Regions from separate parts of the Homo sapiens genome. Here region 1 is linked to region 2. The links come from fine-mapping of genetic effects on gene expression. A gene starts in region 2. The other region holds a variant in brackets. All regions are shown on one strand. Distances are from middle to middle. Region 1 overlaps ZNF496-DT (ZNF496 divergent transcript). Region 2 holds the start of ZNF496-DT (ZNF496 divergent transcript).

The links. PIP is the estimated chance that this variant, and not a neighbour inherited with it, causes the effect.
Region 1: its variant is fine-mapped to the expression of ZNF496-DT in whole blood (INTERVAL, PIP 0.92).

The regions. Positions count from the first base shown.
Region 1 is chr1:247,347,675-247,363,234 of GRCh38, reverse strand. All of the region lies in intron 1 of ZNF496-DT (ZNF496 divergent transcript), which reads right to left. Among named protein-coding and RNA genes, the nearest start is that of ZNF496-DT, 23 kb to the right of the region's middle. RefSeq lists enhancers at 57-601, 5,206-5,505. The variant G/CCTG (reference allele first, on the strand shown) is at 6,553.
Region 2 is chr1:247,322,592-247,338,151 of GRCh38, reverse strand. It overlaps ZNF496-DT (ZNF496 divergent transcript), which reads right to left and starts at 6,098. Exons shown (of 3, transcript NR_168399.1): 1 at 4,906-6,098. It overlaps ZNF496 (zinc finger protein 496), which reads left to right and starts at 6,285. Exons shown (of 10, transcript NM_032752.3): 1 at 6,285-6,362; 2 at 6,505-6,720; 3 at 8,071-8,186; 4 at 8,537-8,963; 5 at 9,286-9,469; 6 at 14,922-14,998. The coding sequence starts at 8,574. It overlaps LOC124904574 (a long non-coding RNA gene), which reads left to right and starts at 1,416. Exons shown (of 2, transcript XR_007067004.1): 1 at 1,416-1,698; 2 at 1,988-2,277. RefSeq lists silencers at 391-685, 4,311-4,605, 5,718-6,197, 6,328-6,437, 7,008-7,247 and enhancers at 1,839-2,339, 6,111-6,405, 8,792-9,294, 15,015-15,519.

The DNA of each region.
Region 1 (15,560 bases), 25 kb before region 2:
GAGAGAGGGGAGAGGAGAAGGGGAGAGTGAGAGAGGGGAGAGGAGAAGGGGAGAGTGAGAGAGGGGGAGAGGAGAAGGGGAGAGAGAGAGAGGGGGAGAGGAGAAGGGGAGAGGTGGAGGGAGAGGGGGACAAGAGTTGAAAAAGTACCTATCGGGTACTATCCTCACTACCTGGGTGAAAGGATGCTTTGCACCCCAAACCTCAGCATCATGCAATATACCCATGTAACAAATCCACACATGTATCCCCTGAATCTAAAATAAAAGTTGAAATTTTGAAAAAACATAATAAATAAGTTAAAAAGTTATATTTTAAAAGAAAACTTTTTAGAGAGCTCTTGTCTCTTTTTTTTTTTTTTTTGAGACAAGGTCTCACTCTGTCGCCCAGGCTGGACTGCAGTGGCGCAATCTCTGCTCACTGCAACTTCAGCCTCCCGGGTTCAAGCAATTCTCCTGCCTCAGCCTCCCCAGTGGCTGAGATTACAGGTGCGCACCACTATGCCCAGGTAATTTTTTTTTTTTTTTTTTTGTATTTTTAGTGGAGACAGGGTTTCACCATCTTGGCTAGCTGGCCTCGAACTGCTGACCTCAGGTGATCCATCTGCCTCAGCCTCCCAAAGTGCTGGGATTACAGATGTGAGCCACCGCGCCCGGCCACTAAGAGCTCTTGTCTTAAACAGCTTTCTTATTGGTACCTATGAAAAGACACAAAAGGAATATATAGCCTTAGAAACTCCCTTAGCAGGATTTCTTTTTTTAAGGCAGAAATCAGATTTACAACTAAGTTATAAATCCTTTGTGTAGCTGGATTCACTGATTTATGCCTGTAATCCCAACACTTCGGGAGGTCAAGGAAGGCTTGCTTGAGCCTAGGAGTTTGAGAACAGACTGGGCAACATAGGGAGATCCCATCTCTACAAAATAAATAAACAAATAAATGAGTCAGGCATCGTGACACACGCCTGTGGTCCCAGCTACTCAGCCAGGGGTAGGCAGGAGGACTGCTTGAGCCTAGGAGGTTGAGGCTGCAGTAAACCATGAGCACACCACACTGCACGCCAGCCTGGGTGACAGAACGAGACTTTGTCTCAAACAAATATATATATATGATATAAAAAATATATATTTCTAACATGTATATGTTATATATGTATAATATATATCACATATAATATATATGTCACATATATAATATATATATCACATATATAATATATATGTCACATATATAATATATATGTCACATATATATATATATATATATATATATATATATATATATATATATATAGTGCGCCCAAGCTGCCTGTTTTGGATCCCCCTGGGATTTACAAAGAAGACGGGCCACCCTAATCTAGGGCCTGGGTTCCATGCTTTCACCACCACAGCCTGGATTTGATTCCCAGTCAGGAAACCAGACTCTTGGAAATGCAAATCTTTTAACTCAGGACAAAACAAATAGAAACATTTGTAAAAAGTTAGTTTGGTATTTGCATAACTCTGACCTTTTGGGGTACCCTTTCACTTTGCAATCCTGTCTATTCCCACAGACAGCTTTTGACTTCCCATCTTACAAACTGCCATGCAATCTTCCGTCTGTGGGAGATACGGGTTGTCAGGCCTTTGTGTGCAGTCAGCCAGCTGAGAGGCTGAAACCCTAGATAATATGGCCAGACAGTAGCCCCATTTGCAGCTACTAAAATTCTCCTTTATTTGAGCTGCCTGGAGTGGTCTGGATCTGAGCAGGGTTGCAACTTTTGCCTCCTCTCTGGAGACCTTGGTGAAAGCCGTGAAAGGCTTCTTGGTTCTGGTCTCCTTGGTGCTTATTTCACTTGGCGTTGAGTCATTTGTTCAGGTATACCTTTGATAGAAAACTGGTTTGTATTTAGAGTGTGATAGCAACTTTTTTCTTTTGTCTCGCTTCCTCCCGTGGGCAGAAGAGACGTGTGTCTCCCACCACTGCTGGGAAGCTGAAGAGAGGCAGGGCTCCTCCCATGAGCAGAGCGGGTGGGAGCGCTCCACAGCCGAAATTCTTTCCACTCCAGTGTTAGGCCACGTGCTCATGAAACAGAAAGCTTGCTGCTTGTGTATTTTCAACACACCCTTCTGCTTTTTCTTTTTTCTTTTAGTTTTTGGGGGATTTTTCCCTGGCAGATATATAGAGCAATGCTTTTTCTCTTTGGATCCTGTTCCTACCCTGGGAATTCTTTTCAGTCAACTGAAATTTTGTTAAAAAGCAATTTTATGTTCCTTCCATCTGTTCACTTTTTTGTTGTTGTTGTTGTCGGCATGATTTTTACTGAGAAAAATGTAAAACATCCTTGGCCTTTTTGGGAAGTTTAAAATCTTCCCAAATTGAGCCCTCTAAGAATTGTTTTCCCATTTACTGTTGGCCCTTCTTCCTTTCTGCCACCTTCAATAACACACGAAGAAATCAAGAGGGAACTTCTAGCAGTCCTGAGACCCCTTGAGAAACCAGAAAAAGGTGCCATACACCCTCCTTTTGGGGGTCTTTTGTCTTCCTCACGGAGCCCCAAGGGTCATGGGCAGGTTACTCTCAAGTCTAAAGCGCCGCAGTCTTTTGCATTGAGTTCCCTGATATTTTCATTTTTTTGAGACACAGTCTGTCTCTGTCACCTAGGCAGGGGTGCAGTGGTGCATTTGTGAGAAACACACTCACCCATCCAAACCCAAAGAATGGACTTAGAGGCACAAAGAACAGCGAAAGGGAGACTTTTCATAACGGTCTTGCGAGATCGGGTGTCTGGTGAGCAGGCACAACCAGGGCGGTCACAACGGGTAATTTATGTCCTAGCACACAAGTCCCTCCCCCAGTTCCTCACTGGTTGAGTACTGTGGGGTTACAATCTTCCCGGACATCGCCTAACTTTCATTATCCCCCTTACAAAGTTATACCCCGTCCTCTTCCCCACTTAAGTTTTGATTTCCCCATAACAAAACTTTCTTCCCTTTTATGAGCTGACCACACCTCTACATTCTGTCCACTTACTGTGACCTTCTGGGTGCATGAGCCATGTGGTTTCTTACATTTGCAGGCTGGCTGCCAGTGCTTAGACTTATCATGCCTTGCAAATGGACCATTTAAAAGGTTTTCTCACCAATTCCCTCCTCTTTTCTATTTACTTATTTTGTTCTCATTTTCTTTTAAACCCTTTTGGGCCGTGAATCGCTCCAGAAGTTGTTTACTTTCTTCCTCATAGGAGAGTGAGTTTAATTTGCTTTCTAATAGTGGCAGGTTATTTTGCTGGTAAGTCATGGGCATTTGTTTATTAATAGCTGTTTTAATTAATTTCTGTGCTAGTCCCCTCACACAAGGGATAATACAACATTCCACTGCTATTAAGAATCCTGCCACAATTATGAGAGATATAAGGATTGAAGCTACCATTCCTTTCCATTTTCCAAATCAGCCTTCTAGCCAACCCGTAAATGGGTCATTAATTCCGAGCATTTCTTCCAGTTCGTTGGCTAGAGTTGTTAGTCCTTGTAAAGCTTTTGTGATGGTCCCATTTGGGGCAGTATTGCTGGGAATGAAAGTACAAAATTTCCCGCCCAGCATAACACACACGCTCCCTTTTTCTCTAGTATCATGTCTAGCGCAAGTCTGTTTTCCCAGGCCATTTAGCTGGTGGCATCTAACTGGCTAGCCACCCTTTGAGGGCATCCCAAGTATAATTGATGAATTCCTGTTGATTATAATAGATGGAGTTAATTTAATTCGCATTCTTCTTAATAGTTGACCAGCAGAAGTGTCCTGACTTTAAACCCAGCACCTACTGCGTTTCAGGCCTTCAATTTATTAGGCAACCCTACCCCCACCAGGGTCTCCTATTGAGTCAACATACACATTGGGATTAAAAGAATTTGTGAAATCTCTCTGGTTTCAGTGGCCATGTGTATTTTGGGGTATCTTATGGGATGCCAGGGTGAAGGGAATGGCCAATGAGACTAAAGCACAAGTCCTGGTCCCATTGGACAGTAACAGGTTACGTAGGTTCCTTTTCCCATAATACTACCAGACATCAGCCCGGGGTGTATGGAGAGCTGAGTAATTGCCATTGCTCAACTCACCAGTGACGTTTAGGATGTGGGTACAAGTTGAGAGTTCTCCCATAGGCTTATGGAACTCTGCCCCCTGTCTAGAGAGGCAAGAGGAGTAGTTCATGTTCTCTGCAGAGAACGAGGGTATTGCTCTGGGATCTGAGCTCCGCAATGCAGGAAACAGCAATGAAAGACTCTTACAAGTCTTACTTCTCCTTACTTATATCATTGTGCTGGTATGCAGCCAACATGCAACACATTCCTCTAGAATCACTATTCCATCCCAGGGGAAACGGAACCACCTGCGCCTGAGGTGGTCCTGCAGCACACGCGTAGCAGTTACTTTTGCTGAGGGCTTGTACCGAAAATATGACCCATTTGACCCAGGCATTCACATCCCTATACCCTGTCTCAATTTCTAAGGTTTGCCTTAAATCCTTTACCTCAATTATTGTTACCATTTTAGGGTTAATATTTGGTAGACTAAAGTGTTTATTAGGGTCTGGGGTTGGAGTAGTTCCAGGCAAATGGGAGGTTGAGTTCTTGATTAGCCTGAGATCAAATCGACCTGGGGGTCTTTCCTTGTGATGTCTTCTCCTAACCCATATACCTGAGATGCTACTTTTGGTTCTTGGTCTAGAAAGGCTGAATTGTCAAGGGTGATGAGTATAGGATGGCATTCTAAATTCTGGCAGTTATTTGGTGGGGAGCGCTTGGACAGAGGTAGTTTATGCTTCAAGGGTTTCCAGTTTGGAGTTACCCACACCATGTTTACTGTCCAACCCTGAAATTGGGTAGCGCACCATACATCCTCCCAGCTGGGGAAGGGTGATGCCCTACTGCAACCTGCATCTGGTTCAAGGCAAAGAGATTTATCTGCCTGCGAGAGCTGTCTCTGATTTTCTAAATTCCCACAAGGTAAAACCTGACAGGCATCAAATCTTATAGTTTGGGGTGCTACCGTCTTAATCATATTAATCACCAACCTGATTGAGCAGTGGGGAGTCCCCTGCCAGTTTCCATTTTGACCTTCTGCTCTTTGTATACTAACCCATCCCAGCCTTATTACCTTTCAGAAATGCAGCCAGCCCACGCTTTCTTTCTAAATTTTTCTCAGAGTTAACTTTAAGTGTTCGTCAGGTGACCCATGCACTTCCCACTGTTCTTTCTCCTTCCCTTTCCAGGTCTCTTTTACCGGCCTCTTGATTCCAGTGTAGTGAGTCCACCCCCATTCAGCTGTTCGCAGGGCTGTCTCAGGGGCAGAGGCACTTGACAGGGACCTTCCCAGCTTGGGTGGAGCTTGTCTTCTTTCCAAATCTTAGTCAGCACCAAGTTGCCAGGCTGGAAGTAGTGAACCATGAACTCAAGAGGCAGAGCTTGCGTCAGAAGACCTTTTAACCTGAGGGATGACAGGGTGGAAGATATGGCCAGTATATCATTTCTTAAGAATTGGTTTTTGGTTTCCATAGTGGGAGGATCTGTAGCCCTGCCCAAATATGGGAGTCCATATAATAACTTGTAGGGGACAATCCCAAGTCTTTTCTGGGGACTGTCCGAATCCTAATCCTAAAGCCATGGGAGATATTTGGTCCAAGGCACTTTAGTTTCTAAGTTTAGTTTGGTGAGATGCTTTTTGAGAGTTTGGTTTATTCTTTTTACCTTTCCACAGGATGCCAAGGGGTGGGATAATCCCATCAAATTTGTAAACCTTCCATAATTCCCCTTAACACTCTTGAAATAGCTTCCTTTCTAATCTCGTGCGGTTCAAAGAAATCACTTCTCTTTTAACAAAGGGTAGCCTGAAAGTTCAGGCTATAAACTACAGATAAACAACTTAAGCATAGAAGGAGGCGGGGGATGTCTCCTGGGTAAACACCAAACTTCACACTCCCACAGTCGGGCCCAGTATAAACAGTGGGCCTTAATAAGCACATTCCTTTCCCTTTAGGCACATTAAGATAGGGAAGCTAAAGCTGACTGGGATGGGGGGGCGGTGGGAGATGCCTGCAGCTGCAAAAAGATGGCTGGGAATAGACACAGAATCTCTCCCTCCCAGATAAGCAACACAAAGAATTAGAGTATTGGCCAGGCACAGGCTCAAGCGTGTAATCCCAGTACTTTGGGAGGCTGAGGCGGGTGGATTACCTGAGGTCAGGAGTTCCAGACCAGCCTGGCCAATGTGGTGAAAGCCCATCTCTACTAAAACTACAAAAAGAAATTTGCTGGGTGTGGTGGCACGCACCCAGCTACTCAGGAGGCTGAGGCAGAAGAATTGCTTGAACCCGGGAGGTGGAGGGTGCAGTGAGCTGAGATCATGCCATTGCACTCCAGCCTGGATGACAAGAGTGAAACTCCATCTCAAAAAAAAAAGTATTATATGGTGACATGCAGGGTTCTAACAGTCCATTTTTAATTAATCCCTCTATTACTGGTTGGAGATCTTTTCTCCCTTCAACAGAAATGGGATATTGTTTTCTGCAAACTCCTCCT[G/CCTG]GTTGTTTTAGTCCAATCTGTAAGGCTGTGATTCTTAAGTGTCCCCGCTTGCCTTTCCCAAACCACAAAACGGGACTAATTTTTCTTCCCTCCTCCTCTGTTAGGAGGCCCATCCTTACTTTCATTTGTCCTTTCTGTGTATCCCTAATCCTAAACTGAATCTCACAATCAGGTCTCTACCCACTAGGTTAGTTCCTGCTTCAGGAATATATAAGAGTGACCCCTCAATGTGTTCTGGTCCCAGTCTAATTAACATTGTCTTGAATATCAGAACCTGTAATCCCTCCCCTTTTACGCCTAATACTTTCAGTTTTTCCTTAGAGAGTTCTGTACCCTTTGGTTTGTGGATTAGGGAGGAGTGAGCTGCCCCAGTGTCAACCAAAAATGTCACTTCTTCTCCCTAAGGTCCCGCCTTCCAATTTATCAAGGGTTCTTGGTGGGACCTACTCAGAAGGAAGCCCTGACCCCCATTGTATTCATCAACGGTCATGAGGGGGATCATCTCTTCTTCTTTTTTCCATTGAGGACATTCTCTCTTAAGATGCCCTGGCTTTCCACACTTGTAACATCTAGCCACTCATAGTCTTAGGAGGTTTCCCCTGCATTTCCTTTCTTTCTCTGTGTCGAAATCTATCATTCCCTTGTCTCATTTGAGGGGGATCTTGAGCTAATCTTTTTTTGGCTACCTCTTCCACAGTGGAAATCATGATGTTCCCTTTCTGTTTCTGCTTCTCTTCCCCTCTTTTCACAAAGACCTTCTGAGCTTCACTCAGTAATTCCTCAATCGGTTTCTCATTCCATCCATCAATCTTTTGTAATTTTTTTTTTTGTAATGTCAAGCCAGCTTTTAGTAACAAAGTTAATCTGCAACAGGCCTTGCCCTACTGGGTCCTCCGGATCTAATCTGGAGTATTTTCTCATCTCTGAGCCTCTGCAGGAATGTGAAGGGAGTTTTCTCTTTTTCTTGTTGAATCTCAAATGCCTTTGAGACATTTTGTGTCCTAGGAGTGTACTCTTTGATCCCTTGAATTACTAGTTTCCTGAGGTCCTGCATTTGGGCCCAGTCCCTGGGATCATTATTATCCCATTCGGGATCAACATTTGGAAATTTTTGTTTGGCTGGCAAGTCTCACTGCCCAGGAGGGTGTTGCTTCTCCCCACTGGTCATGGCCACTCTCCTAATCATTCCCCTTTCTTCTCCCGTGAACAGGATATTCATGATAGACATCATTTCAGCCCAAGTGTAAAAGCTGGGTCCTAGGAATTGGTCCAGCTGGTCTGCTAAACCCAGGGGATCTTCTAGGAGTGGTTTCATTTCCTTCTTGCAATTCCTAACTTCAGTACTTGCAAGAGGAGTGTTTACAAAGCCAATCTCTCCCTGTCCCATGGGAACTTCCCTAAGAGGGAACATGCTAGATGCCTGCTGTGTGGAAGGGATAGGGAAGTTCTCAATATCCCTCTTACACTCTTGTAATTCTTTTCTTAAATTTGGATAAGGATTTAAAGGAGCAGTTGGCTTGGCTCCCCTGTAGTCTCTGGGTCTTTCTTCCTCTAACCCTCCTGCTGCCCCTTGATCTTCCTGTCCCCTTTTTTGTGAGACGTATGAAGGGGCAAGCACGATAGGGGGTCCCAGGGCTTTTCACTGGGTGAGGGCTCTTCACCAGGCTCTTTTTCTTCTTTTTTGAGGGGGATCATGGGGGCTAATTCCTTGATTCAGCAGAGAGTAACCTATCTCTTCTTGTGAGGATGAAGTTTTATTATTCACAGAGAGAATTAAAGCTTAGAACACAATCCTCATCTGAGCCAAACTTAGGCCAAAAGACAGAAGGCTTATGAATGGGGTCTTTGGGCCAGACAAAACAGCAATACTTTATCATCTTTTCCTTTTCCTTGTCCCTGGTTCGAGGGTTGTTCCACCAAACCTGCAACAATCTCCCCAAAGGACTATCCAGGGGAATGTCAGACGGAGTCTCTTTGGCTCCCTCTTTCCTTTGGCTCCCAGGCCTAGAATTCCTGTTTCCCATTTTCTGCCAGTCTCTGCGTCTGAGTTTTTCCCTGTCTACTCAACCCCCCTTACTGGAGGTTTCTTGCACACCCCGAGACCTCCAAAAATGCCCCATGACCAAGGCAGTACTTACAGTCCAATTTTCCTTCCTTGGCTGGTGCATGAGTTTGCCTGGTTCCCGCAGTGCCTGCTTTTCTCCCTGTGTTGCTTCTGCTGCCTCCTGAATAATAGTCTTGGGTTTGTTTATGCCTTCTATGGGAAGCTGGGATGCCCAGATAGAGCGGGCCACCTAAATCAGGTGGGACACATCTCCCCTCTCGGCCAAAGTCCCACTTCACACAGGCACATGGATCCCAGATGGGCCCCCATGCTTGTGAGAAACACACTCACCTGTCCAAATCCAGAGAATGGACTTAGAGGCCTGAAGAACAGTGAAAAGGAGACATTTAGTAACGGTCTTGCAAGATCAGGTGTCTGGTGGGCAGGCACAACTGGGGCAGTCACAACAGGTAATTTATCTTCTAGCACACAAGTCCCTCCGCTAGTTCTTCATTGGTCGAGTACTATGGGGTTACGATCTTCCCGGATGTCATCTAAGTTTCATTGTCCTCCTTGTAAGGTTATACCCCAGTCTCCTTCCCTGCTTAAGTTTCTTCTTTCTTTTTCTTTTCTTTTCTTTTTCTTTTGAGACAGAATCTCACTCTGTCACCCCGGCTGGAGTGCAATGGCACAATCTTGGCAAACTGTAACCTCTGCCTCCTGGGTTCAAGCAATTCTCCTGCCTCAGCCTCCTGAGTAGCTGGGATTGCAGGCGCTTGCCACTACACCTGGCTAATTTTTGTATTTTTAGTAGAGATGGGGTTTCACCATGTTGGCCAGGCTAGTCTCGAACTCCTGACCTCAGGTGATCCACCTGCCTCAGCCTTCCGAGATGCTGGGATTACAGGTGTGAGCCACTGCGCCCAGCTCCCACTTAAGTTTTGATTTCCCTATAACGAAACTTTCTTCCCTTTTATGGACTGACCCCTTCTCTACATTCTGTTTGCTTATTGTGACCTTCTGGGTGCATGAGCCATGTGGTTTGTTACATTTACAGACTGGCTGCCAGTGCTTAGATTTATCAGGCCTTGAAAATGGACCAGTGAAAATGTTTTCTCACACAATTGAAGCAGGATATTTCCTTGACCCTTTTGTGGGCAGAAACCGGGGCGCACGGGTGCTAGAACCAGCCAGCTGCTTTGGCACCAGCAGAGGCAAACTCCATTCACTACTGCTCCACTCCTCGGAGAGGGAGCACCAGTGAGTAGGTGCAGAAGCCTGAGTGAGTGCTTTTGGGTGCTGGCAAAAGCGAACTGCATACCGGCCCCACAGCAGCATTTAGGGGAGAGTGCCCACAATCCCTCAAGCCCCAGAAGAAGTGTTACAGTGCCCTTTTAGCTTTGCCGTCCATGGCCAGCTTCAGTGTTAACAGCTCAGTGGAGGGTCAGTGTGACAGCCTTTTGCACTCACACTCATGGCACCTGAGTTCTTGCCTGGTGTCCAGGAGGAATCAGGTCACATGAATGAAAAGATGGTAAATGTGGGGGATTTTATTGCCAATGAAAGTGGCTCTCAGTGGCAAAGGGAGCTGAAAAGGGGATGGAGCAGGAAGGTAATCTTCCCTTGAAGTCTGGCCATCCCCAGCTGGACTCCTCTCTAAAGCTATGCTGTCAAGCTGTCCCTCTGAAGTCAAGCCACTTCTCAATCATATCCAACCACAGTCTGCGAAGTCCAGCTGCCTCCCCTCTCTCTGCCAGTTGAGCCTGGGGTTTTTATGGGCACGGGATGGGGGACAGAGCAGGCCACAGGTGGTTTTGGAAAAGGCACCATTTGAATGGGAAAACAGGGATGTAAGTTCTCACTTTGGGCGGCAGTATCAGGCTTTTCAGATTGAAGGTGGGGCCTTGGCTGGGGAACTGCCCTCCCAGAATTTCTCTGCCTTCTGTTCCTATGACGATCATGGCTCACTACAGCCTCAAACTCCCAGGCTCAGGTGATCCTCCCACCTCAGCCTCCCAATTAGCTGGGACAACAGGCGCACATCACCACACACCTTGCTAATTTTTTTGTACCCATGGGTTTTCACCATGTTGCCCTGGCTGTTCTTAAACTCCTGGGCTCAAGTGATCCTCCTGCCTCAGCCTCCCAAAGTGCTGGGATTATAGGCATGAGTCACTGCACCCGGTCTGAGTTTCCTGATATTTTTTGGCTTTTATGGGTACCAGGAGTATTTTGTATTGTAAGAGCACATTACCTTCGGGTGTGTTACGGCTGGTGAGTCACTGGCAAGTGTAATCTTGGAGGTGGCAGACTACAGTTGTGGCAAATGGTTACTACTATAGGGGAGTACTCATTTCTTTGAACATTTAGATAAGAAATGTGAAGTTTGGAAACTTGGAGACTGTAGGAACACTTAATACTGGAAAAAAAGATACCCATGAGAGATGGGCTGATCACACAGTGGGCTGACTGGCACTGGGCCATCCACCAGCCCAGGGGGAATACCTTTGCAGCAAGGTGCATGGTGGAAGTGTTGCTCAGCCTGGCCCATGACATTTCCCTCTTGGGCTTTTAACACAGCTCTGAGACACCCAGGACTCCATGTAAAAACAGGGTCTTTGATTTCTGAGGATCTGGGTGTTCTGCCTTCCAGCTGTGCTTGCTTTTCAAATACATAAGTATTAGGCCCTGAAAACTGCAAATGCTTTGTTGGCCCTATTCATTAATGGGCTCTGCACTGAGCTCAGTGGTGCAGCTGGAAAATGAAGACCAAATTGGAAACCACCCATTTGGAAATGGGAGTTCAGCTCCGTCTGAAATGGGGGAGGGATACAATGATTAAGGGAACCCATTTCTAATAGGTACTACATTGAAAACTACCTAAAATTGGTCTCCTTATATGCTCTTGTAAATTCCTATGATTCTGTGTTAACCTTGGCATCCATTTTTAACCTCCCTTTACCTAACACACACAAATTTCTTCTTAAAAATGTTTAAATTTGGCCAGGTGCAGTGGCTCATATCTGTAATCCCAGCACTATGAGAGGCCAAGGCAGGTGGATCACTTAAGGTCAGGAATTCAAGACCAGTCTGACCAACATGGCAAAACCCCGTCTCTACTAGAAATACAAAAATTAGGCCAAGCATGGTGGCTCATGCCTGTAATCCCAGCACTTTGGGAGGCTGAGGCGGGCAGATCACAAGGTCAGGAGATCGAGACCATCCTGGCTGACACAGTGAAACCCTGTCTCTACTAAAAATACAAAAAAAAAAATTAGCCGGCTGTGGTGGCACACGCCTGTAATCCCAGCTACTCGGGAGGCTGAGGCAGAAGAATTGCTTGAACCCAGGAGGCAGAGGTTGCAGTGAGCCGAGATCGCGCCATTGCACTCCAACCTGGGCAACAGCGTGAGATTCTGCCTCAAAAAAAACACAAAAACAAAAACAAAAATTAGCCAGGTGTGGTTGCAGGCGCCTGTAATCCCAGCTACTTGGGAGGTTGAAGCAGGAGAATCGCTTGAACCTGGGAGGTAGAAGTTGCAGTGAGCTGAGATCACTCCAGTGCACTTCAGCCTGGGTGACAGAGTAAGAGTCTGTCTCACCAAAAAAAAAAAAAAAAAAAAAAAAAGCTTAAATTCTCTCTCTCTGCTTTGAGGTGTAGATTTGCTGCCCTATATTCTCTACAACTCAGCTATGTGGGACAGATTAACTTGTTCCATTTACAGGGCCACAGTTTTAATCCAACTGTCCTTTCATTTATTTTTATTATTATTTTTTTCTTTAGAAACAGAGTCTCAGTCTGTCGCCCACACTGGAGTGCAGTGGTGCAATCACACCTCACTGCAACCTCCAACTTCTGGGCTGAAGTGACCCCACCCACCTCAGCCTCCCAAGCAACTGGGAATGCAGGCACACACAATCACACCCAGCTATTTTTTTTTTTTTTTTTAATTTTTTGGTAGAGATGAGGTCTGGCTACTTTGCCCAGGCTGGTCTCAAACTTCAGGCCACAAGCAATCCTCCTGTCTTGGCCTCTTCAAGAGTTGATGTATTAGTCATTTTCACATAGCTGATAAAGACATACCTAAAACTGGGTAAATTATAAAGAAAAAGAGGCTTAATGGACTCACAGTTCCACATGTCTGAGGAGGCTTCACAATCATGGTGGAAGGCAAAAGGCACATCTTACATGGCAGCAGGCAACAGAGAGAAAGAGAGCCAAGTAAAAGGGGTTTCCCTTTACAAAACCATCAGATCTCATGAGACTTATTCACTACCACGAGAATGGTCTGGGGGAAAACGCCCCCATGATTCAGTTATCTCCCACCAGGTCCCTCCCACAACACGTGGGAATTATGGGAGCTACAATTCAACATCAGATTTGGGTGGGGACACAGCCAAACCATATCAGTTGGATTACAGGTGTGAGCCACTACTCCTGGCCCCAAATGTCCTTTTAAATTAGTGAGTTTTTTCAGTCTCATGGCTAAAATTTTATTTTATTTTTGAGACAGGGTCTCACTCTGTCACCCAGGCTGGAGTGCAGTGGTGTAATCATGGCTCACTGCAGCCTCAACCTCCTGGGCTCAAGTGATCCTCCCACCTCAGCCTCCCAAGTAGCTGGGACTACAGGTGGGTGCCACCATGCCTGGCTAATTCTTAAATTTTTTTGTAGAGACAGGGTCTCACTGTGTGGCCCAAGCTGGTCTAGAACTCCTGGGCTCAAGTGATCCTACAGCTTTGGCCTCTCAAAGTGCTGGGATTACAGGTGTGAGCCACCACACCCAGCCTCTGCTAGATGTTTCAAAGTCATAAAACAGTTGTTTTGTGACATTTTGAATACTTGCTTGATTTGTCCGTGAGCTTATGTCTCTGGTGTTGAGCCTTTAGATTCTGGGGTCCAGACAGGTGGCCGTGGTGAGGCTTGGATTTAGTTTGGGGATCCACCAGGGGTAGATCTGATGAGATCTTGAGGCCGGGAGTTGAACACCAGCCAGGGCTTAGGTTTTATGGACACACAAGGCTTTGCATTGTGGACTTGCTCTGAATTCTTTCTTGCCTGAGATCTAAGAACCGTCTCTGGGAGCCTGGATTGGGACCCCTTTCCTGTAACAGATCTACCTCCTACTGGGTCCCCAAACCAGAACTATTCCTAGAGAAGGATGTCTCCTTTCCTCAAAAAAGAGAGCCCATAAAACTGTTGGAGGTAAGGGCTGTGCTAAAGCAAGCAGTGGTTTCTGATGGGCGGAGCCTCCCCTCACGCTTCCTGCTGGCAGATGTGAAAAGCCCTCCTTCAGAAATACGTCTATGAGTTATTTCCCAGATAAGAGCAATACACTCGGCCGAGCGCGGTGGCTCATGCCTGTAATCCCAGCACTTTGGGAGGCCGAGGCAGGTGGATCACAAGGTCAGGAGTTCGAGACCAACCTGGCCAATATGGTGAAACCCCATCTCTACTAAAAATACAAAAATTAGCTGGGCGCGGTGGTGGGTGCCTGTAGTCCCAGCTACTAGGGAGGCTGAGGCAGAAGAATCACTTGAACCCGGGAGGCGGAGATTGCAGTGAGCCGAGATCATGCCACTGTACTCCAGCCTGGGTGACAGAGTGAGACTACATCTCAAAAAAAAAAAAAAAAAAAAAAAAGCAATACACTCTCACATCTAATCTCCACCAGCCTCTTTCACTAAAAAATATCTGTGGAGACCCACCATGTTGAATAAAACATGCAGAACTCATAGGGTGAAAAACAACGGTGCAAGACCTGTTGAGAAGGGGGGGATTTCTTTCCAAGTTCAGAGGGGATGGATCGGAACGTTTTTGTCCAAGAGAGGTAACTGCCTATTTATTCTCTTCTCAAATGGAGTGGTATTTACTGGACGGGCCCCAGAAGCTGGGCCCATAACAATCCAGAGAAACTGAACTCCGAATGCTTCAAAAAGCCCTCAGTAGGAAAGACACTGGGAATCAGCGACTTTTCTGGAAAAGAGAAAAAGGGATTCCTCTTCCAAATTCACTGGAACCTGGTGAGGAGCCGTGGTTAAAGGTCACTGAGAGCTGAGCCCCAGAAGCCACTCGCCCTCAAGCGGTGATGAACTTTTCATTTGTGAATTTGGTGCAGCAGGTCCAAGAGGTTCTCTCTGGCTTATTCATTTAATTTCTGACACAAACAAAGCACTGGAACAACTGAGGGGTGAATACGGCAATTTCCCTTTAAAGGAGGTCCACTAGGAAAATTATTTACTGTAAAAATTTTTAAGAGCAACTTTCCTCCCTAGAAATGGGAAGACTGCGGTTCTGGTTAGTCCCGATTTGAATGATCTGCACAGTAATGTGGAGATAAACGTTCACCCCTAGGCCTCTTCCATTCATTTATGCCGGGAATTGGGTGAGACCCCAGCTGCACCCCTGCAAGGGAGCCAGGGCTGCAGGTCTTCCTGGGCCAAAGCTGCTGAGCGGGTGATCGGGGAGCCGGCGTCCGCTGCGGCCCAGCCTGGCGGAGAGGAGCTTGCGAGACTCAACCCCACCTCCCAAATTTCTGCGCGGATGCGCGCAGGGCGTGGCGAGATGAGCTCAGCGCCCCAGAGCCCGCCGGGCTCCAGGCCCACCTTGGAGACCCCCGCTCCAGCCGCCTGCCCCTCCTCTCCACTTCCCTGTAAGCACCAGGTGTAGGGCAGCTGCCTGCCCCGGAAAGCTGCTTGCACTTACTGGGGATGGGGAGGTGGGGGCCGGGGAGGGGAACCGTGCGAAGCCAGGGGACCCCTGGAGAGGGTTGGGGAGGAGTGGTGCTGGAGAGCATGGAGGTCTGACCCGAACATCGAGAAGGCTCTGGAATTCTAGACAGTCTTGCACCAGTCCCTGGTAGAAAGAGACCGAAACTGGGAGTGGTTGGGGCCCAGAAATTCTTCCAGCGCTTTAGGTCCTTCCTCTTTCCTGGCCTTGGTTTCAACTCAATTAGATAATACG
Region 2 (15,560 bases):
TGCCAAAGCTTCGAAACGCCACAACGCCCGCTTGACAGATGGACTCCTGCTTTCTAACCAAGAACGCCCTAGACCCACTTGCTGCACTCATTTATGACTGGGGGAACGCAACAACCAAGGCATCCTTGCCTCCTGACGGCCCATCACCCTCAGTGAACCCCTACTTCTTCTGAGCCCCCCTCTAAACAACAACCAGTGCAGATGCGACTCCCACTTCCCTGATACATTATCAATTATTAAAACTTCATACTTCCATGAGGCCTCAGTATCACACACAGGCTGTGAGTCCCCCAAGCAACTAGGCACACTGGTGTGATAAGCCTGGTCTCTGCCTCCAGGTCCCCTTCTTGCCTTCCCCCGACTGTGACCCAGCGACATTCCAATGCACCAGTAAAATCCCCTCATACCTTCTGCTTGTGTGCCCCACCCTGACCCCCCGACACAGGTACTTGCCCACGGGTTCTCTCTCTTTCTCGACCCCCCACCTGCACTGCAGAGCCTGGGCCCTTGGCTCTCATCCAACACGGCCCTGCACGCATGCGGTGCCTCCCTCTCCAGGACCTTGGAGCAGCATAAATCCTGTACTTTCATATCATTCTTGGACTGTAATTGCTGCAGCCACTTGGGAGTGATTCTTAAAGATCCCACAAGGGAGACTTACTCCCACACTTACATCACACCTGACATCATCCTCCTCCTCCCCTCCCCCTCTTCCTCCTTCTCCTCCTCCATCCGGAGCAAACCTCGCAAAAATACTTCTCCCATTATCAAGCCATATTCCAGCCTCCTCTGGGTGCCCTCCCCCGCTCACTGAATCAAGACGATAAATCTGGTCATTTCTGCAAATCTGAATTTGTCAAGGCACAAGCTTGTCCCTGATGGTCCAGCTGAATAAACATGAACAACCCAATGCTCAAGAATAGCTCCAAATACCAATGTTTGGGGTCTTTATTTTCTTGACTGTAGCATCCAACGCTGATTTCCAGGAAAAAGATGTCATCTCTTTAGTGACAACTTGGCCACTTAAAAGAGGTACTTTCACTGGAGCCCCTGAGAGTGGGTTATGTCAGCCTACCTGCAAATCTCAAAGTGTTTTTGCTTTCAAAAAAAGAAAAAATAAAATAGATGAACAGGCCTCTGTGACAGCTGGGAGGCCTCTATAGTGAGAAAATGTCATCATGCAAAGCTGTTTCACTGAGCAGCTTCTCACTGACCCCTTTCCACAGGCCACAATAAGGGACCAGATTAATGCCTTGCTGTCCATGCCCCCTAGATGTCTGTGACTAACACAGTAAGAACTAGCACTACTATTCCTAGGACTGTTCCTAAAGCCACAGTTTATTGAGTATCTACTATGCCCAGCTTACAACAGAGCTTCTCACATTGCAAAAAGCATGCAAGTCCCTGGTGCCTGGTTAGCCGCGCAAGCTGTGGTTGGGGCCTGTGGGTACTGACAGCTCCCAGAGAAGGCAGGTGTGGTTGGTCCAGTGATGGGGCTTCACATATTTGCACACCTGTATTTGTCATCAGTCTACAAGCATATTATGCGGAATGATGACCTCCTCTGCAGGGGGTGATGTCACAGTGGAACGGCTGCCCACCTGGGGGGCGATGTCACAGTGGAACGGCTGCCCACCTGCAAAGCACTGGGGCTTTAGGTTACACATCACATTTCCTTGTGCACACTTCACTTTCCAGGTTATATATAATTCACCCTTTCCTTTGTTATCGTCCATTCACCTTTCCACTCTGCAAGATGGCCGTCTCACGCCCTCTTCCTCCTGCTCTCACATTTCACCCTCTCTTTCTCCCTGTCACTTAAGGGCCCTGTGTAGCAGTCAGGGTTCTCCAGAGAAACGGAACAAATAGCATGTGGAGTGGGGGGAGGGAAGGGGGTGGGGATAGAGAGCTAGAGATCAATAGAGAGAGATGAGGGAGACTGTTTTCTTTTAAGGAACTGATTGGCTTGCAAGTCTAAAATCTGCAGGGCAGGCTGCAGATCCAGAAAGCCGAAGCTGCAGCAAGTCGGAAGGCGCGCCGCAGGGGGAGTTCCTTCCTCAGGAGACTGCAGTCTTTGCTCTTACGGCCTTCGACAGATTGGATGAAGCCCGCCCACGCTATGGAGGGTAACCCGCTGCATTCAAAGTCTACAGATTTAACTATTAATCATATCTAAAAAACAGCCTCACAGAAACACCAGACTGGTGTTTGAACAAAAACTGAGTACCACAGCTAGCCAAGTTGCCTCATAAAATAAAACGTCACACTTGCTCCTTATTTTACTGGAGTGTTGGCAAAGTTGGAAGAAGCCTGCCCCAGGCTCTCCCTGCCCAGATGCTGTGGACATGCCTCAGGTCCAGAGGCAGCCTTCCCTGCCCTCCGGCTCCCCGTGGGCCCTGGGTGCCAGCCCTCCCTCCTCCAGGCGATGCACTGCAATTTCTCCCATCTTTAAGATGAGACCGTTTTTCTCCACAGGGCTGTGTCCACTCTCATCTCCCTTCTCTTCCAGAAAGTGCCCTAGCCCAGGAGCTCCACTGTCTGCTTTGCTCAGGGGCCTCTCTACCAGATTCAATGGGCAGTGTTCTTTCCTCATCGGATTTGATCTTGGCGCAGGATTTATCCCCCTGACCTCTTTCTCTCCTTGAAACACAGGTGCTCACTTGGATTCCAGGGCTCCACACCTGCAATTTTCCTTTTATCTCAAGGCGGCAGCAGCTCTCCCTACCCCCTTCTCTTGCCCTCGTCCTCCCTCACTTTCCTCCTCCTACTTCCCCTTCTCTCCCTTCTCCTCCACTAACCCCTTGGGCTCCCACGGTCCAGGGCTGGCATTTCGCAGGGTCTGCCCTCCCTGGGGCTGCTTCTCAAAACACACTCAACCCTCTCAAGCCCCAGCTCCTGCTACATACGGTGACTCCAGATTTCCACCTCCAGCCACAGCTTTCTATCCCAGAGGGTCATCCCCACTTGTCTCCTGGGCATCTGAAAACCAGCAAGTCCCAAATCCACCAATTCAACCCCAAACCCAACCCCTTCCTGGAAACCTGCTTCCTTGCATCTGCCATCTCTAGAAGGCCTGTTCAGTCACCCAGTTTCAGCCCCAGTCACAGCCGTTCCTCACTCCTCTAACACAGGCAGCATGCCTTCAACACAGAGCCTGGATTGGGCCTACTGTTCACCAGCTGTGCCTCCACCAGTCAACTCCAGGAACCGAGCATCTCCTGCCGGGATCTCTACAACGATTCCTAACAGAGACTCTGCTTCATCTGTTCTGCACAGTGATCTTGATAAAATCAAGATTCCGTTAGGCCACACTCCTACTTGAAACCCTCTAATGACTATAACATCTGGTGACCTGGTTCCAGCCTCACCATTCTCTCACTATTCCTCTGCCCAGCTGAGCAAGCACACGCTGTTTCCTCTGCTGGAATACTCTTCCCACACACCTCTGCTCAGGAGCCCCCCACCTGCTCTCCACTCAAATGTCACCTCCTGACAGAGGCCCTACCTGAACATCCCCAGCACACTCTTCCCCACCATGTTGTATTTCTTTCATGACACCGATCACCAATGGCGTTATATTGCAGAATCGCTGATTTATTATTTGATTCCCCTCCCAACTCCTTGGATCATTCTTCTATGGTCTCCCCATGGATCGAATAATCATTGGCACATAGCAAACATTTCATAAAAACAGATACAATTGGCAACATTATATTCATACAAACCTAATACACGCACACACTGGGCATGATGATGGTGCAGTCCTTGAGCAGGGTTTACAGGCAGGATCCTCTTCCCGATGCTTCACCCGTGGTATCTGATACAACCCCACTTCATTCAGAGGCGAACACCTTCCCCACGGGCTCCTGTGCCCCCACCCAGCTCTATGCCATCCCTCTCCTCTCACTCACCAGCCCACCTTGCTTCGCACCGCTCCCCCTTAGGGCCTTTGCTGTCAAGGTGGTCTCCATGTGTCAAACAGGGACTCTGACCAACTACTTCATCTCAAATACCACCTTCACAGTAAGGCCTGCCTGCCCTCCTCTTTAATACCATGACTGTTACCAGCCCCTCCCCAGCACTCCTGACTTCCTGATGCCTCTCCACTTTCCTTTTTTTCTGTAGCACAGATCAAAGAGAGCAGGTCATGTTACTGATTTTGCTTCCTCCAATAGCCAGTTGTGTTCACAGATGTACCTGAGCACCTGGAAGGCTGGCTGCCTAGCACTCATGAGTGTACAGTAGGTACTCGGTATAGGTTTGCTGAATGACTGAATCTTTGATCCTGCACAACCATCCAATGAGGTAGACAGCATCATCCCTGTTTTCTGGATGAGGAAGTTGAGGTACAGAAAGGTTATGTAGGCCTGAGGTCACCTGGCTAGGAATTCATAGGGCAGGATTTAATCCGGGTGCCTGAGTCCAGAACCTTGACTCTGAAGCCCTGTTTTGAGCTAAATGCAGCAGCAGCATAAACAGCCCGTTTTGTGCCTCAAAAGGTGAACAGTGGGAGGCACAGCTGGGCAGGGACGTGTCAGGTCAGGGGAAGAAACTGAATTGGGTAGTGGGGATTAATTGGATGCTGTCTGCCAGCAATTTCTGCCTCCTGCATTTTATCTGCTTTAGGGTTGCAAGGGGCAGAGCTATGAACACGGATGCCCACTCAACAGCCAGTTCCTGGGCCAATCAAAGGGTTGGGAGCTGTAGCACCAGAGCTCTGGAACCCCACAGACTAGGATGTTTGCTAGAGCACCTAAGCCCTACCAGCCTTTGATGACCCCTCGGTTCCTCCCAATTCCTCTCCTCCATGTCACGGTTCCTGGCTGGTGTTCCTGAGAGTGGGCTGTACATGAGTTCTGTAAATGCCAGTCCAGTTACGTCAAAGGGGGTGGCTCTCACTTGTACCTGTAGGCTCCAGCTAAGATCTGCGTGGCCCTGCCCGGCATCTGGCTGTCATCCGGGAAACAATCACTGTTCACAAACAAGGGCTTCACTCCTTCGCTCGCTCCATCTCCTGCTAAAGTCAGAATGTGAACACTGACAAACAGCGGCTCCCAGTAACTCTGCTAGTCAGAAGTGATTATTCCAGCAGTTCAGAGGAGGAAGTGGCGGTGCCCAGGGCCACGGGATTAGAAGAGCAACGGAGCTAAAGGATCCCGTGCCTCAGTCCAACCACCTTGTTCCCACTTACTCAGCCGGGCCACTTTCTTTGGAGAAACTGATTTCCTTCTGCTTGCCCTTGAAAGGGGATCCGAAGGAAATCGGAGCTACCGGCAGTAGCTACCCTCCGGAAGACGGAGAATCTTCTCCACCTTCTCCTCTGCGTAGGAGAATCCAATTTCGGTGCAGAGCAGATGGCGAAGGGGCCATGGGAATCAGACCTGCTCAGGGACCGGGTTCGCACTTTCTCTCAAGCTCTGGAGCCTGAAAAATGAGCATTCCCCGGGGACGACCCATGTAAGAATTTGGGCTATATTCAGCATAGTGCAGCGGCCAGCAGCCCTGTCTCGGGGTGGGGTCCGGAGGCCCCCATTTCTGCTTGCCCCTCACTGCCACATAACCTTGGGTCAGAGTCCCTCATCCTCTCCCTCCGCCACTGTGCACAGCTGCAACCGTGTTCACTTCAGCGAGCAACGAGCCCCGTGACCCCCACTCAGGGTCAGGACTCACCGCAGCCCCTCTGCGCAAGCCCCGAGGCTCTGCGTGGCCTCCGGATGCGCGGCCTTTCCTAACCCGGGGACTCCGCACGTGGGCGCCAGGCCCGGAAGGCGCGGATGTGAGCGCTACCTTCGGCGTCCCGCAGCGGCAGGAGGGGCTGGGCGGCCCGGGCTTCGGCTGGCGGCGGGGGGGGGGTCGCAGGGGAGTCTGAAATGAGGCGGCCGACGGCGCGCGGGGCCTCCTCTCTCCGCTCCATCCCGCACCCCCAATTCCAGCTTCCATCCCCAGCCGCGACTCCCGGTCGGCCGTTCCGGGCGTCCACTGGCCGCGTGTCCTGGGGGCGCCAGAGAAGGAGAACAGCGGAGAAAAGAGCCCCGGGCCGACCTTCCGGACCGGCGGGCCCGCGGGGAAGCCCGGGCGCGGCGACGTGGCTGACCCACAAAGCCCCCGGCCCGGCGGCCAGGCCCAGGCGCGCGCGGAGCGGGGCGGGCCGGGGGTGTCGGATGTCACCCCCAGCGCACACCTCGGCCGGGGGGCGGGGGAGCGAACCACTGAGATGCGGAGACCTCCCCAGTCCTAGAGCGGAGCAGGAAGTGTCCCAGGGGAGGGAGCCGGAGGGCTCCGGCCTTTCCTTTCCTCGGCGTCCGGCGGGCTCCCGCGGCGGCCAGGCCTGCGCCGCCCGCCAACAGGGACGCGCCGCGGCGGTGAGTGCACCCCGGCTCCCGCGGCCGGCCCCGCCCCGCCCTCCTCGGCCCGCGCCCGGCCTCCGCGGCGCCGCCTCCCAGCCCAGAGCCCAGCGCTCAGGAAGGTGCGGGCGGGGGAGAAAGCAACACCATTGTTTTTCAGGCGCCTCCATTTGCCCCCGAGCCGAGCCGTGGCTTTCCGGATGATCGGGAGACGCGGTCTGGACGGGCCGGGAAAGGAGCCGGGCGCCTGCGGAGACCCCGCCTCAGCGAGTACGCCCGGCCGGGCGGGCTGGGAGGATGAGGACGGCTGCCCTGGACTTCCGCCGCCACAGGAGGGTTTTCGGCCGGACGCCGGGAGGGAGCTCCAGGCTGTGAGGTGAGGAGCCCGGAGCCGGCGAGACGGGAGACGCGCGTGTGAGGGAGACCGAGGGCGCGGAGGGCGGGCTCCCCCTTCCCTGGCCCACAGCGACCTTCTCCTTCCCTTTCTGCCGATCCAGCTCGGTCCCTCCTCCGCGAAAGGCTGGGAGCTCGCTCCGCCCCTGCGGGGCCCTCCTCCGCCTCACTCACGTTAGTTCATTCATCAGGCATCTCCTCCGAGCCTCCGACGCGCCAGGTGCCGCCGTGACAAAGACGGACGCGGCCGTCTGGTTGGAGACGATCCGAGTGGCAGCCCGGGTGGGCGCCGGTGCTCGGGGGGGCGGGCCTGAGTAGTCCTGGGCGCTGCAGGTGTGTGATGGGCGCCGCAGGGGGCCGCCGAGCAGGGCGGGCGGGGCCCACCCCGGGCTCCAGATGCCGGAGCCGCCCTGGAAGCGATCCGGTGGTGGGGAGCGCTGTAATGCGTCCAGCCCGACGCCGCCACGGCCCCCATATGGGTTTCTGTGTATGTTGTTACTTTGGAAAGCAAAGAGATTCAGAGCAGTGGGTGTTTCTGGAACCACTCAGTTGTTCCGTAGCTTTTCTGGCATCACTTGTCTTTCTGTGAAATGGGAGTGAGGCCCGAGTCCCCCTTCCCACCTTGTGAGCTGTTGGAGGTTAAGACGCGGCCACGCTGGACAACCTCGTGCAGATGGGGGAGTGGCAGGCACTGCCGGTCCTAAGGATCACAGAGGCCTGATGGCAGAGAAGGGGACTGTGAGTGTCCCCATGTGCCCTTTCACGGGCCCAGCGTTCTAAAGTGGGAATCATAAACACCAGGTATACTGGTTGCTGGTCTCTTGCCACCCTAGTTGTGGCAAAAGTGTCGGCTAGTTGTCTGCACACCAGCGGGGAGGTGTAGGGACCCCTGAGTCCCACCTTGGGGGTGTGGCAGCTGCAGTGTCCAGGGGTTCTTTGAGGGCTGAGCTGTGCAGTGACGGACCCACTTTTCTGTCCTGGCCGAGGAAGGGCTTTGGCGAGTGTGCAGTTGCCTTCAATGTGGTTTGAAGAGGGCAAGGATAGAGAATAGGGTGGAGGCGAGGTTGAAGGTCAGGGCAGAATTGGCAGAAGGCTCATAGGAAACCACTGATACTTCTAGATGCAGTGTTATTTGTCCCTGGTAGACTGCATGTAGCTGTCTCATGTGATGTTTTCCCTTGCCTCCCATTGCAGACTCTGCTGGGCAAAGCTGATTCTGGCTGGGTTGTCCATCCAGCACGCAGCACCATCAGCCCTCTGCCACCAGAAGGGTGGATTTTCCATTCCTGGATGTGCTTGAAGGCTCATCCGATGCATGTCTTTGTCATTCCAGCTCCATTTGTAAAGGTCTTAATAACAAGAACAGTGACTTCGGCTCCGGAGCTTCAAGATAGTGGCCTGCTTGGCCTGCCCATCTCGGATCTCTCCAGGAGGACCCAGCCACCCAAGGTACCAGAGCGTCTTGATTACATCTGCATGTGGCGCTGTTGGTTTCCTGGGATGCTCAAAACAGCAGTGTCACGTTGAAATGCCACCACTTTCTCCCAGATTTCCTGTCTTGTTCATCCAGTCACCCACTTAACGGGAATCCACACGTAATGGTACTGATGGGGGGAGGGCATCTTTCTGTCTGTTTCATCCTGTGTGTAAAGACCAGCCACACCAACACTCCCTACCTTTCCCAGGGCTTCTCCAAAGGGCTGGTCTCTGAGGGCATTGACAGTTTCCTTGTCACTGTCCCCCAGAAATGACCACAGGAGACCAGAACACTGAAGCCAGTGATTTCTGTTTGGAAATAGGGTCGTCTTCTGCTGCTGACCCCCATCAAATCCCATCATGCCCACAGCCCTGTGCCCCCGAGTCTTGGCTCCGAAGGAAAGTGAGGAGCCCAGGAAAATGAGGAGCCCACCTGGAGAGAACCCTAGCCCCCAGGGGGAGCTTCCCAGCCCCGAGTCCTCTCGGCGTCTCTTCCGCCGTTTCCGCTACCAGGAGGCGGCGGGCCCCCGGGAGGCCCTGCAGCGCCTCTGGGACCTGTGCGGGGGCTGGCTGCGGCCTGAGAGGCACACCAAGGAGCAGATTCTGGAGCTGCTGGTGCTGGAGCAGTTCCTGGCCATCCTGCCCCGGGAGATCCAGAGCTGGGTGCGGGCGCAGGAGCCTGAGAGCGGAGAGCAGGCTGTGGCCGCGGTGGAGGCACTGGAACGGGAGCCCGGGAGACCCTGGCAGTGGGTGAGTAGAAGAGGTGGGGCTGGGACGGGTAGAGATCTGGTACTTAGACACTTTGGCTGGGCCATGCATGTGCTGGCTGGGGAATGAGGAGTTCCATCGAGAGCCATTTACTTTGGTTAGGTCCAGACTAGAGTTTCCTAAGAAAGCCAGTTTTACTCCCTGAAGGCTCTAATTTGGGCATGATAGTGTCGTGCCCCTTTACAGCCCAGTCCAAGGCCTAAGTTGAGCCTTTGATGGTCAGCTGTGGAGTGGATGGTCACCAGGCCCAGGGAGAGATGGGACCTCTTCCCCTAGCCCTGAAAAGCTGTCTCTGGGATTGCAGCTCAAGCACTGTGAAGACCCTGTGGTGATTGATGATGGGGACAGCCCTCTGGACCAGGAGCAGGAGCAGCTGCCGGTAGAGCCCCACAGCGACCTTGCAAAGAACCAGGATGCCCAGCCCATAACCCTGGCACAGTGCCTGGGGCTCCCAAGCAGACCACCAAGCCAGCTCAGCGGGGACCCAGGTATGCAGCCCAGGGGAGTGTAGCAGGGGTGATCTGGGGAAGTGCACACCCCATACTGTGCACTGGGTGTGGTTTTTGTTAAGCTGATGGCTTTTACATCAGCAGTGTTCTCGTGTCCCCGAGGTGCTGTGAGCTGTTGTCAGGGTCTGAGTCCCTTCCTAGAGCAATTAAATGAGAACCTCATCAGGATGTTTGTCCTCTTCATGGTTCTAGAGCCTCTCAGAGCTAACGCTTCTGTAGGTGGGTGTCACTGAGGTGGTGCCCTCTCATCTCTTCGAGGGTGCATCTCTGCAGGATTTGTCAGTTTGATGACAGCTGGGGACTGCCAGTGTACAGCTGGGGCCTGCTGCATGACTGGAGCATGGCCATTTCTTGTCTCTTGGAACCTCTGTTTCCTTGGCTAAACAACTCCTGTTTACAGGAGTATTGTGATGCTGCGAAGAGATGTAGAAATACTTAGGAGGACACAGGGTGGTGTCTAGTGTGTGGGGCCAGAACATCAGCTACACATAGTTTGAGTATGTATATGAAGTACATGGTAGCTACAGGAAAGTAGTTTTTTCATCAGATAAACTTAGATTTGAATCTTCTGGTTATGACCTGAGGCATGTTTCTAAACTCTGAAAGCCTCAGTTTCTTCCTCTGTCCAGCAGAGATAGTAATTACCTTTTTTGGGGTTTTTGGACAATTAAATGAGATACAACCTACAAAAGGTTGAACACAAGGCCTGAGGTGCCCAAAACTTTAAGTACATATCATGGGAAACCAGCGCCCTTGGGTTGAAGGAAGTCTGGCCCGTGGGTTCCTCTGGGTGGACTTGCCACGGTGCTTTATATGTACAGTGGAAAGAGAGTGTCTGGGGGGCCAGGGGGGCTTTCTTATGACTCTGGGTGGACTTGCCATAGTGCTCTATAGGTACAATGGAAAGAGAGTGTCTGGGGGGCCAGGGGAGACTTTCTTATGACTTGCAGAAGTTGTGTTTGGCATTATGATAAGCTTTTCAGTAATAAAACCAAAATGCCTATTAAATTTCTGTGTGTGGAAAAACTATATTGACTTCTGTACAAATCACATAAACTCTTCAGCCTTTTCTTGCTTATAAATCAAGTTTGGTGTGTTGTTGGCTGCCATAACAAAGTACCACAGACTGGATGCCTTATGTAACAGAAATGTATTCTCTCACAGTTCAGGAGGCTGGAAGTCTGAAGTCAATGTATCAGCAGCCTTGGGTTCTTCTGAAGCCTCTCTCCTTGGCTTGTAGACATGCCTAATGTTAACACTAAGAGAAGTTTGCAGATAGACATTTAGAAGGAGCTAGGGGTTGGGCGCGGTGGCTCACGCCTGTAATCCCAGCACTTTGGGAGGCCAAGGCGGGCGGATCACCTGAGGTCAGGAGTTCGAGACCAGCCTGGCCAAGATGGTGAAACCCCATCGCTACTAAAAATACAAAATTAGTTGTGTGTGGTGGTGGGTGCCTATAATTCCAGCTTTTCGGGAGGCTGAGGCAGGAGAATCACTTGAACCTGGGAGGCGGAGATTGCAGTGAGCTGAGATCACGCCATTGCATTCCAGCCTGGGTAAAAACAGTAAAACTCCATCTCAAAACAAAACAAAAAAAAAGGAGCTAGGAGGGGAAGTCTCTTATGCCACTGGCTCTCTTTGGGACCCGTAAAAACCCATGAATATCCGGCCCTGAAAGCTGACAACAAGCTTTGTGCCAGGACTCTTGATGACGGGCGGTTTTCTTTCAGGGAAAGGAAGAGGAAGATGTTTACACTAAGAGAAGTTTGCAGAGCAGGTGTAACAGACACCTTCTCTCTCTGGGTCTCTTTATGTGGTCTTTCCTTTGTGTGTGTCTGTGTCTTAATCTCCTCTTCTTATAAGTACACCAGTCCTATTGGATTAGGGCCCACCCATATGACCTGATTTTATCTTAATGACCTCTTTAAAGACCCTATCTCCAAATACTCAGTCGCATTCTGAGGTACCTAAGGGTTAGGGCTTCAACATAGGAATTTGAGAGGGCCATAACTTAGCCTGTAACAACAGGTATAAGGGAAGCAGCCAGTCGCCCACATAATGCACGTGCAAGTAGCTTGGGTTATGCAGGAAGTGGGGGGCTGTGAGAGGCCTTGTAGTGGGGTCTGGGAAGGCATGCAGGTGGAGAGGAAGAAGTTTCAGGAACTACAGTAGCCTGTGCAGTTGCTTCTTGATAAAGTTCTGAGATAAGCCAGCAACCACAGATGGGCTTTAGGAAAACAGGGCCAGCTCTCCCATTTCCATGAGCAATAATCAATAGGCAAAGTAGGTATGATGAGAGTTAGCAATCAGGAAAACCTTAACTATTGGGACAGTTCATCATTGGAATGCACTACCTATCAGAGCTGTATAGTTCCTCATCTTGAAGATCTTCCCCAAAAGCTAGATTTTGTGTAGGGTCTGCAACTCTCCGAAGTGATTCTTGAAAGGGTCCATGTATTCATTTATCGGGGCCAAAAGTAGGGTGGGACTACATATTCATATATATATATATATATGTGTGTATATATATATATGTATGTATATATATGTGTGTGTATATATATGTGTGTGTATATATGTGTGTGTGTGTGTATATATGTGTGTGTGTGTGTATATATATATATGCGTGTGTATATATATATATACATATGTCTCAGCCTCCCAAAGTGTTGGGATTACAGGCGTGAGCCACTGTGCCCGGCCAACATGATTTTAAACTTGGAGAAGGGAGGGCTAGGGATGGGAAGGAGTTAGCCAGGTTACCCAGTTAGGGGGCATCTCCATTCATATATATATGAATATCTGGGATAGCTACATATCCCAGAAGGTGGCAGGTGTGAGGAAGCAGAACTAAAACACCACCTCCTAGCCAGGCATGGTGGCTCATGCCTATAGTTCCAGCTACTCAGGGGGCTGAAGCAGGAGGATTGCTTGAGGCCAGGAGTTTGAGACCAGCCTGGGCAACATAGCGAGAACCCACCTCTAAAAAATAAAACACCCCCTCTGGGAGACATCGGTCAAAGAGTACAAAGTTTCCGTTAGGTAAGATGAATAAATTCTGGAGATCTATGGTACAGCATGGTGAGGTTGATGAAAAATAATGCATCTTATACTTGAAAATTGCTAAGAAAGTAAATAAGAAATGTTCTCGTCACAAAAATATATGAGGTATAGATTTGTTAATTAGCTTAATTTAATCATTTCACAATGTATAGTTATCACATTGTACAGTTTTCGTATACAAAATACATACAATTTTTGTCAATTATAGCTTAATAAAACTGGGAGGTAAAAGTAAGTTAAATAAAGATGAAGATAGAAACTTAAAATGGAACATACACACAGAAAAATACCACCTCCTCAAATCTACGCCCATCCAGCCTGAGCTTCCCCTTCAGACACAGTGAAGAGGCTGCCTTCCACTGAGACCCCTAGAATGGCACTGCCATCTGTGTGGGCTCCTGGCCCCGTCCTTTGTTCCACATAGCCACTCCTGCAGCTGCTGTTTCCTGCAGGCTTTGTATTCCAGGTCTGAAAGGCCAGGGACACTGGCCTCTGGGGTTTGCTTTGATAATGACTTAACATGTGACCTGGGGTTAACCAGTAGACTATAGCACAGCTCTCCAAGTCTTAATCTGAGAAAGGAGTACCTTTTGAAACAGAGCTCATTTTTACATGGCTGCACTGTTGGCAGGGGATGTGGCTCATGGCAGAAGCCTGAACAAAGGGTAGTTTCCAATTCCAGGAGAGAAGAGTGGCAGAGTCCCTGGTAGCCCAAAATAAGGCTGGTGAGATGGTCCCAAAGCCACACTTTACATTTTGTATGAGGGTCTTTAGGACACTGTGTCAAATGCTCTTTCAGGAGTACCTACAGTGGTAACAGTTTTTCTTTTTTGTTTAATTTCTGTCTTCAAATTGACAAAAAAAAATTGTATGTATTTACAGTGTACAGTGTAATGTTTTGATATCTATACACATTGTGAAATGATTAAACCAAGCTACTTAGCTGGGCATGGTGGCACACCTGTAGTCCCAGCTACTCAGGAGGCTGAGGTGGGAGGATCCCTTGAGCTCAGGAGTTCTGTTCCAGCCTAGGCAACCTAGTGAGACCAGTCTCTTAAAAAAAAAAAAAGTCAAGCTAATTAATATAATGCATTACCTCATATACCTATCCTTTTTCTGTGTGTGGTGAAAATACTTCAGATCTACCCTCTTAGCAATTTTCAAGTACACAGTACGTTGTTACTGCCTATAGTCACCATGTTGTGCAATAGGACTCCTGAGTTTACTCCTCTCATGTCACTGAAATTTTGTACACTTTGACCAATGTCTCCCCAGTCCCCTCATTCCCTAGCCTCTGGTAACCAGCATTCTGATCTCTGCTTCTATGAGTTCAACTTTTTTAGAGTCCACATTTAAGTGAGAACATGCAGTATTTCTTTTTGTGTCTGGCTTATTGCTCGTAGCATGTCTTTCAGGTTCATTCATGTCGTCAAAAATGACAGGATTTTCCTTCTTTTTTTATGGAGTTCCACAGTAATTCTGATTGCCAACAGCCCTTACTTTTTTTTTTTTTTTTTTTCATTTGAGACAGAGCCATGTTCTGTCACCCAGGCTGGAGTGCAGTGGTGCAGCTGTGGCTCACTGCAGCCTCCATCTCTCAGGCTCAAGCAATCCTTCTGTTTCAGCTTCCCAGTTTTTTTATTTTTAATAGAGATGCGGTCTCCCTATGTTGCCCAGACTGGTCTTGAACTCCTGAGCTTAAGCAATCCTCCCACTTTGGCTTCCCAAAGAGCTAGGATTACAGGCATGAGCCACCACATCCAGACCCTAAGAGTCCTTATAGATTCCTCAACTCTACGGCTTTTTCTTTTTCTTCTTCTTTTTTTTTTTCTTTTTCTTTTTAAGAAACAAATACTCTGTGTTGTCCCTGCTGGTCTGGAACTCCTGGGCTCAAGTGATTCTCCCACCTCAGTCCCCAAAATAAGAATAGCTGAGATTACAGGCATGTACCACCACACACGGCTGAACTCCATAGAGTTTTAACCTTTATTTTCCCATAGTTTGGATAACAATGCTGAGGTCCGGGGACCTACCCGAGGTGAAAGAGTTCATTTAATTGACCGTGCTATCATGAACCCAGGCACACTCTGTTACAGCCCCCCTTGTTATATCTGGAAACAAAGTCGCAGCAATCTTTGTGGTTTACAGAGTACTTTTCATGTGCGTCATTTTGTAATCCTCATTTTACAGTTAAGAACAGAGACTGGGGTTTTATGAAAAGCACCATGAAACAGTTCCCTGTTGGTGCCTCTCTTGTGATTTTCTTTGCTACCAAAATGGAAATGAAGAGCCGCAGGAAGCTCAGAAGGTATCAGCACCAGGCCTGGCCCTGGCCCACTTTAGGACACCATTTTCTGATCTCTTTCAGTTCTGCAAGATGCTTTCCTTCTTCAGGAAGAGAATGTGCGGGACACACAGCAGGTGACCACCCTCCAGCTACCCCCGGTGAGTGGTTTCTACAGGAGTCCTTGAAAATCCCCTGTTTGCCTCTGTAGGCTACAGGGCAGCTTTCTTAGGACCCCAGCCAGCTTTCTGACTGCCACACAGGATGTTCAGTCCCAGCCCAGAAAAGCTAAAATAGGCAGAGCGTGAGCTTAAGAGACGCCCCATTTCTCCTCCTTCCCTGTGGTCCCAGCCGCCCACTGGGTCTACTGTCATCAGGCCACCTTCAGGAAGCTTTGTGCAGACGATAGCAGGAAACAAAGGCCCATGAGTCCCCATTGATGGGCCTCTCAGCATGTCTAAGTTCCCCTCTTGTGAAAAAGGAGATCTCTCTGCTCTTTTATTTTACAGAGAATTTTTCAATTTAATAATCATCGCAGCAATGGTTATATTTTAGAAATGTTAGGAAGTGGAGGGAAGAAAGCACAGATAATTTCAGTCCTGTCACAGATCTACGTGGTGAGTCATTCCAGAATTTCCTCGAATGTTCTCGTTCGTGTTTTTGTGTAAGACTTGCTTACTCGGGTGCTCTGAGGAGTCAGAGTCAGGGCTGGGGGCTGGTCCA